Linked DNA regions of Homo sapiens. The protein of the gene in region 2 purifies or fractionates together with the protein of the main gene of each other region. This does not show direct contact. Each region holds a gene or a part of one and is shown on either strand. Other genes may lie near its edges.

The links.
Region 1: the proteins of DRG1 (region 2) and OSCP1 purify together in Homo sapiens (affinity purification with mass spectrometry; 2 studies listed by BioGRID and IntAct, with this or other methods). This does not show direct contact.

The regions. Positions count from the first base shown.
Region 1 is NC_000001.11:36,443,635-36,447,549, forward strand, and holds part of OSCP1 (protein OSCP1), read right to left. Parts: intron 1,174-3,915; exon of another isoform or gene 967-1,173; intron 400-966; coding exon of another isoform or gene 370-399; intron 1-369. UniProt on the Homo sapiens protein: May be involved in drug clearance in the placenta.
Region 2 is NC_000022.11:31,420,053-31,423,967, reverse strand, and holds part of DRG1 (developmentally-regulated GTP-binding protein 1), read right to left. Parts: intron 3,713-3,915; coding exon 3,543-3,712; intron 689-3,542; coding exon 558-688; intron 1-557. UniProt on the Homo sapiens protein: Catalyzes the conversion of GTP to GDP through hydrolysis of the gamma-phosphate bond in GTP. Appears to have an intrinsic GTPase activity that is stimulated by ZC3H15/DFRP1 binding likely by increasing the affinity for the potassium ions.

The DNA of each region.
Region 1 (3,915 bases), on a different chromosome or scaffold from region 2:
ATTCTTTGGTTACATGACAAAACAAAGTTGTTTTAAGGACTACCAAATAGGATGACATACCCCAAAGTATGGCTATTGCCCCAGCTGTCCCAGCAAAGCTTGGAACTGAGAAAAGGAGACATATCCCTCAAGTACAGTGTGGCTTTTTGGTCAGAGTTTGCTTAGTTTTCATCTTAACATGCTGTATTTCTTCCTCTTAAGTAAAAGATTCAAATGTATAACCAATATCTCAGCTAAAGACAAACTCATGCCTATTTTCTTACTTTGACTTTGAAATGTTTCAAGCGGTCCCATTTTAAGCCCTGCTGATAAAGGCCTGAGTGAACCTGTGGATGCACACTGAACACATGCAGCCCGGAGATAGCATACCTCGTTTTCTGTCCACCTCTGTCCATTCATCTACATGAAGCATACAAAAAGAAAACACCAGTTCATGAAGCAAGAACATTATTTTCAAGGAGGCTTTAAACATACCAATTCCAATGATCTTATCTATGAAACTTTACTTTTCACGTTGGCATTTAATGTCTAATGTGAGCACACTGCCTTCTATTTGAAACCTTTAAAAGGATGATGGATAAACAACATATTTCAAAAAAGCTCAAGAAAGGCTATGTCTTACAGAGACTGGCCTAAGAAGAGAGTAAACTGAGGAGGATTAGCTATCCTGTGGTTCATCTTGAAAGGCCCAAGAAGCCCCGCTCTCTAATGCTACAAGAATACATATCATTCAGTAGTAGGCTTTTAAAGACGCTAGCCTCCATGAGGAAGAATAATTCCAAGAACAGGCAGAGAAAAGAGTTTCTTTGTATACAATCTGAGTTTTCTTTTCTTTTCTTTTTTTTTTATTAATGTAAGATTTCCCTTTCTAGAGGACAGATGGAACTGCTCAAATTAGAAAACTTGAAATGTGAATTAAAAGGAAAATGTCAGCATTTGTTTCTGTTTTACTTTTTATATATATAGATGCATGATTTCCATGTAAAAAGAAGCGAATAATGATGGGACCACTATGAAGAAAGCTTCTGAGGACAAAGGCAGCTGGGGAGATCCCAAGAGGAGACCAAATAAGGAAAAATGCAGTTGGCTAGAGAAATCGGTGAGAATCAAGACTCTATGGGTTGAAACCTGGCTCTACTTACTGGCTATATAAACTTCAAGCAACTTGTTTAACCTCAGTTTCCTTCGTAAAATAGGGATCATAATAGCACCTATCTTACAGGCCTATTGTGGGGATAAAGCATAACACACATCAAATACTTAGCTGGCTTCCCTTTGAGTTCTGTTTCCTCTACTGAGGGACATTAGACACCACCCATAAAGGATGGAAGATGACTTTTTTCCTTTCCTTAATTTTTGATGGAGATTTCAATCTAGAAGAACCACCCCTAGATAAAAAAGTTCTATACACATCTGTATTTCAAAAACATTTTGGCGAGGCACAGTGGCTCATGCCTGTAATCCCAGAACTTTGGGAGGCCAAGATGGGCGGATCACCTGAGGTCAGGAGTTCGAGACCAGCCTGGCCAACATGGTGAAACCTCATCTCTACAAAAAATACAAAAATTAGCTGGGTGTGGTGGTGCACACCTATAGTCTCAGCTACTTGGGAGGCTGAAGCAGGAGGATTGCTTGAACCCAGGAGGTGAAGGTTGCAGTGAGTGGAGACTACGCCACTGGGCGACAGAGCAACACTCCATCTCAAAAAACAAAAACAAACAAACAAAAACCCCAAAACCATTTTGTAATTAATAGTTTCTTTTGGAAACATTTGCCACTAGATTGTGGTATTAGGGGTGATTTCTGAAGTTATAATCAAAGTATACACATGGCTTCAATACATAATACCAAAAGCTCCCAAGAGAGCAGTCTGAAAGCATGGCCAGTGCCATGTCCTAACCGGCTGCAAAGGGTTTCCATTGCAAGATCACACTCCTCTGGGAAAATTCACCATCTTCCCCCATCAAGAGTCATGGGCTTTTGAAAAGAAAATATTGGGAAAGCAGCACCAAAAGTTTGGCAGATACTGTTTTCTTTGGCACAATGTCCACATCTATCTTTCTGTGGCATTTATTTATTTATTTATTTATTTATTTTTGAGACAGGGTCTTACTGTGTTGCCCAGGCTGGAGTGCAATGGTGCGATCTCGGCTCACTGCAACCTCCACTTCCCAGGTTCAAGCGATTCTCCCGCCTCAGCCTCCCGAGTAGCTGGGATTACAGGCACCTGCCATCATGCCGGCTAATTTTTTATTTTTAGTAGAGACGGGGTTTCTCCATGTTGGCCAGGCTGGTCTTGAACTCCTGACCTCAGGTGATCTGCCCACCTTGGCCTCCCAAAGTGCTGGGATTACAGGTGTGAGCCATCACACCCGGCCTGGCATTTATTTTTTATTTGTTTATTCTGAGAGGGAGACTTGCTTTGTCGCCCAGGCTAGAGTGCAGTGGCGTGATCTCAGCTCACTGCAACCTCTGCCTCCCGGGTTCAAGCGATTCTCCTGCCTCAGCCTCCTGAGTCGCTGGGATTACAGGCGCCTGCCACCACAACAGGGTAATTTTTGTATTTTTTGTAGAGATGGGTTTTCACCATGTTGGCCAGGCTGGTCTCGAACTCCTGACCTCAGGTGATCCACCCACCTCGGCGTCCCAAAATGCTGGGAATATAGGCGTGAGCCACTGCGCCCGGCCCCTGCAGCATTTATTTAACTGGTGGTATAGTGTGATAGACTTGTGGGAATTCAAGGAGGTGGAGTTTTAATCCCCTTGCAGGTGTGTTTGGGGAATAGTGGTGCTGCAAGGGGGTCATCTCTGAAGGACAGTGACTCTCGCTGATAAAATGGAACTGGCAGATGCTCCCGAAGGCAGGCAGGCTGAACGCCAGCAGGGGTCTCTGTAGTGCTGTGTGCTCCCCTACTCCTTTCCTCCTGAGAATACAGGGAAGAGAAACACCCTCTTTTTCTATTATTTCTCCAGATGACTTATTTGTGACAACTCCACTTTAGTTCTGTTTTGAGTGGGGGCAGGCCCAAGGCTATTCAGAGCTAGTCGTTAAACTGGAACTAGAAAAATAAAACCAGAGTCTCACTGCCCTTTGGTTGCTTGTGCTACACTGTGATTGGCATGTCTTGGAAAAATCACTTTGTGGCCACATGCCTCAGTTTCCTCTCCTGTAAAATGAGGAATGTAAGCAAAAGATAATAAGGTCTTATTTATAAATATTTTTAAGAGGCAAAGGTAGCTTTTATTATTCTCGCCATTGCTTTAAACAGGAGACAACATTCAATATGCAACACTCGATAGTTGCCTCATAGAGAGAGCACTTCCTTTCTGTTGAATGCTAAACTAGAGGCTGCGTTGTGGGGGAAGCTGCAACATCTGCCTTGGCCTTGTGGGAACAGGGATGGCCTCCAGGAGACCAATTAGTCGTATAAGATAATGAAAACATCTAGAAGAAATATGATTTCCACTCAAAGCTTCGAAGAGGACTAGTTTACCAAGTCTAGTGTTTTATAGGCTCCTGTGTACAGGGATCTGTTACAGGGGCTCTCGCTCCTGTGGCCACAACAACTTTAAATGGTGGAATAGGTGGAAGACATGAGTATTTCTCAGCCCGTTGAATCCTATGCTCTCTACCCTGTTTTCTCACTCTATCTTCTACAGATCTCCAACAGCCAACTATTTTGTCATTTATTTGATAAAATCAGTGGGTATATTGGATATATATTTTTCAGACTCCTCCCTCTCCTCCTGACCTACCAACCCCCACTAAGATTCTGATATAGTCCCCAAGGTATGGCAGCAGAGTATAGTGGTTATAGTAAGGGGACTAAGTGGTTATAGTAAGGGGACATTGGCTGAGTATGAGGACATTGGTTATATGAGGGGACATTGGTTATAGTAAGGGGACATTGGCTG
Region 2 (3,915 bases):
CGCTTGAACCTGGAAGTGGAGGTTGCAGTGAGCCGAGACTGCGCCACTGCACTCCAGCCTGGCTAACAAGAGCGAAACTCTATCTCAAAAAAAAAAAAAAAAAAGAAACCAAAGCCCACTATCATTTAAGATAGTAGCACAGGCTGGACACAGTGGCTCATGCCTGTAATCCCAACATTTTGGGAGGCCGAGGCAGACGGATCACTTGAGGTCAGGAGTTCAAGACCAGCCTGGCCAACATGATGAAACCCCATCTCTACTAAAAATACAAAAATTAGCTGGGCGTGGTGGTGCGCACCTGTAATCCTAGCTACTCGGGAGGCTGAGGCAGAAGAATCTCTTGAACCTGGGAGGTGGAGCTTGCAGTGAGCTGAGATCACGCCACTGCACTCTAGCCTGGGCAACAGAGTGAGACTCCATCTCAAAAAAAAAAAAAAAAAAAAAGACAGTAGGACAACTGGAATTAAGATAAACTTCTGCCAGATTCAAGATCCAATACTGTTTCCATCACAAGGCTTCCAATTCAGTCAGGCACAGACTGCACACTCAGTCAGTACCTGTTTCCTTCCACCACATCAATGAGGTCATCAGCTGTAGCATCACTACGTAGAGTCACATCGGCATTATGAATCTTGTATTCAGCCAGAATGCTCTTCACAGTTTCAGCATCCAGCTCACTCTGGGGGCACTGAAAGGGAATAGCAGATGACTAGTCAGCACAAAATTTAAAAAAAATACTTGTCAAGTGTACCAATATCCATGTACCTGGAAAATTCTAGCTAAGATGCAAACTCATTACTAAATACATCCGGGATGAGTGTCACTGACTTTTAGTAGGAAATAAATGTCCAAACTCCAAGGAAGGTGTTACACGCTGAACTGTGTTCCTCCTTCCCCCACCAAATAATTCACATGAAGTCTTAACCTCAGTATCTCAGAATGTGATGTATTTGGAGATAGGGTCTTTAAAGCGGTAATCAAATTAGAATAAGGTCATTAGGGTGGGGCCATAATCCAATACTGGTGGTCCTAATAAGAAAAGGAGATTAGGACACAGACACACAGAGCAAACACCATATGAAGTCCCATCTGTAAGCCAAGGACAGAAGCCTCAGAAGAAATCAACCCTGCCATCAACTTCATCTCAGACTTCTAGCCTCTAGAATTATGAAAAATAAATTTCTGTTATTTAAGCCACCCATCTGTGGTACCGTATTATGGCAGCACTGAAACTAACACAGAAATAATCTTAAATGTTCAAATTTGAATATTAAGACGGGATAATGGGAAAGATGTTTTGGGCAGGACAGCTGAAACCTATGCCAGTCAAATCATCTGGGCTCTGAAGTGTTAAATTTAGTAGGAAACTCTCAGTCCTCAATTCTGACAGAGAAGCAGCATTTGACAGAATTGGTCACTCCTATGTGAAACACTTTACTTGGCTTCCAGTATTTCAAACTCTTTCAGTTTTCCTTCTCTCTCTTGGTCTAAGAAGTCTTATTTCTCTGAGTCTCTTTTCTTTCTTTTTTTTCTTTTGAGACGGAGTTTTGCTCTTGTTGCCCAGGCTGGAGTGCAGTGGCGCGATCTCAGCTCACTGCAACCTCCGCCTCCTGGGTTCAAGCAATTCTCCTGCCTCAGCCTCCGAAGTACCAGGATCACAGGCACGTGCCACCACGCCTGGCTAATTTTTGTATTTTTAGTACAGACAGGGTTTTGCCATGTTGGTCAGGCTGGCCTCCAACTCCTGACCTCATGTAATCTGCCCACTTCGGCCTCCCAAAGTGTTGGGATTACAGGCGTAAGCCACCGTGCCTGGCCGATTCTCTTTTCTTTTCTTTCTTTCTTTCTTTTTTTTTTTGAGACGGAGTCCCGCTCTGTCACCAGGCTGGAGTGCAGTGGCGTCATCTCGGCTCACTGCAACCTCCACCTCTTGGGTTCGATTCTCCTGCCTCAGCCTCCCGAGTAGCTGAGATTACAAGTGCGTGCCACCATGCCCGGCTAATTTTTGTGTTTTTAGTAGATACAGGGTTTCACCATGTTGGCCAGGATGGTCTCCATCTCTTGACCTTGTGATCCGCCCACCTCGGACTCCCAAAGTACTGGGATTACAGGTGTGAGCCACTGCACCCAGCTCTCTTTTCTTTTCTATCTATACTCACATCCTTGGTGATCTCAGTTAGGCCCATGACATTAAAGTTGATAATCACCAAATTTATATATCCAGCCTAGATAATTCCTCATGCCTTCTTTATTATTTTTATAGAGATGGGGTCTCACTTTGTTGCCCAAGCTGGTCTTGAACTCCTGGGCTCAAGTGATCCTCCTGCCTCAACCTCCCAAAGTGCTGGGATTATAGATGTACAGGCATGAGCCACCATGCCCAGCCTACCCCACATGCCCTCTTGACTGAAATACCTGGATGTCTCACTGGCATCTAAAATTTAACATCCTGATCTTCTCCTTCCCTCCAAATCTATTCTACCAAAAGTCCTACCATTTTAGTAATAAGAGTTCATTTTTTTTTTAGCTCAGGAAATAAAAAACATGGCTGGGTATGGTGGCTCATACCTGTAATCCCAACACTTTGGGAGACCGAAGCAGGAGACAGCTTGAGGCCAAAAGTTCAAGACCAGCCTGGGCAACATGGCAAATCTCCGTTTCTACCAAAAAAAAAAAAAAAAAAAAAAATTAGCCAAGCCTGGAGGCATGTGACTTAGCCCTAGCTACTTAGAAGGCTGAGGCAGGAGGGTCACTTGAGCCCAAGAGTTTTGAGCTAACAGTGAACTATGATTGTGCCACTGTACTCCAGCCTAAGCAACAGAATGAAACCGACCAGCCTGGCCAACATGGTGAAACCCCGTCTCTACTAAAAATACAAAAGTTAGCTGGGTGCGATGGCAGGCACCTGTAATCCCAGCTACTCAGGAGGTTGAGGCATGAAGCAAATGCTCTTCTTCAAGATATCCACTTGGTTCACACCTTCATGTCACCTCAGTAAAGACTTCCCTGACCAACGTTCTTAAAACTGCAACCCTCACACCAACACTCTTATCTCCTTTCCCTACTTTGTGTTCTTATATTTATCATTGACGAATACATTATATTTTACTCATTAACATTGTTTTCTATTCTATCCAATTAGAATATAAAAGCAGGGGGTTTCACTATTCCCTCTTCCATTCCTGCCCAGAGCCTAAAATAATGCTTGGCCCGTGGTAGGCACTCTATAAATTTGTGTTAAATGAATGAAAACAGAAGATATTGGCGGCCATCTACTTTATGCAAGCATAATATTGGTCCACACGCCCATATCATTCCCAATAGATAATCCAAAAGAGGAAATAAGTAGCAAAGGTAAGTCTGAGACTGGCTCCTATCCTAATCTTGAAGTTTTTCTTGTCAGTCATTATAAAGTCATTGTGTTATCTCAATTAGTGCAGGGAAAAGCCAGGAAATTTTCCAATGTCAGGGTCCATGCACCCCAATCCACTCCCCATTCCAATTCCTGCAGCAGCCTGCCCCATGTCATATTCCCCACTTACAGTGGCTGTGAGATTAATGCCTCCCTTGTCCTTCTTCTTAAAGCCAATGTTGGGGGGTTTGCTGTTCAAGCGAATGCCAAAGCCTTCCAGCTCATTTTCAATTATCTTCTTATGTCCCAAAGGTTTCAGGACATCCAGAACAATCAAGATCAAGTTACAGGTTCGGGCCACTGAAGAGTAAGAAAAAAACATACGCAAGAAAGTTCAATAAAGCCTTAACTAACCCAAATACTCAAGTAGAGGTGTTTTTTCCCCCTACATTTAAGTGTCAAAGGATTTTTCTGTAATACATACATGCATACGTGAAGTTCTTATAGCTACAGAAGATTTATACCAGAAGTCAATTTGCTTTGTATGCCATGAAATCAGCACC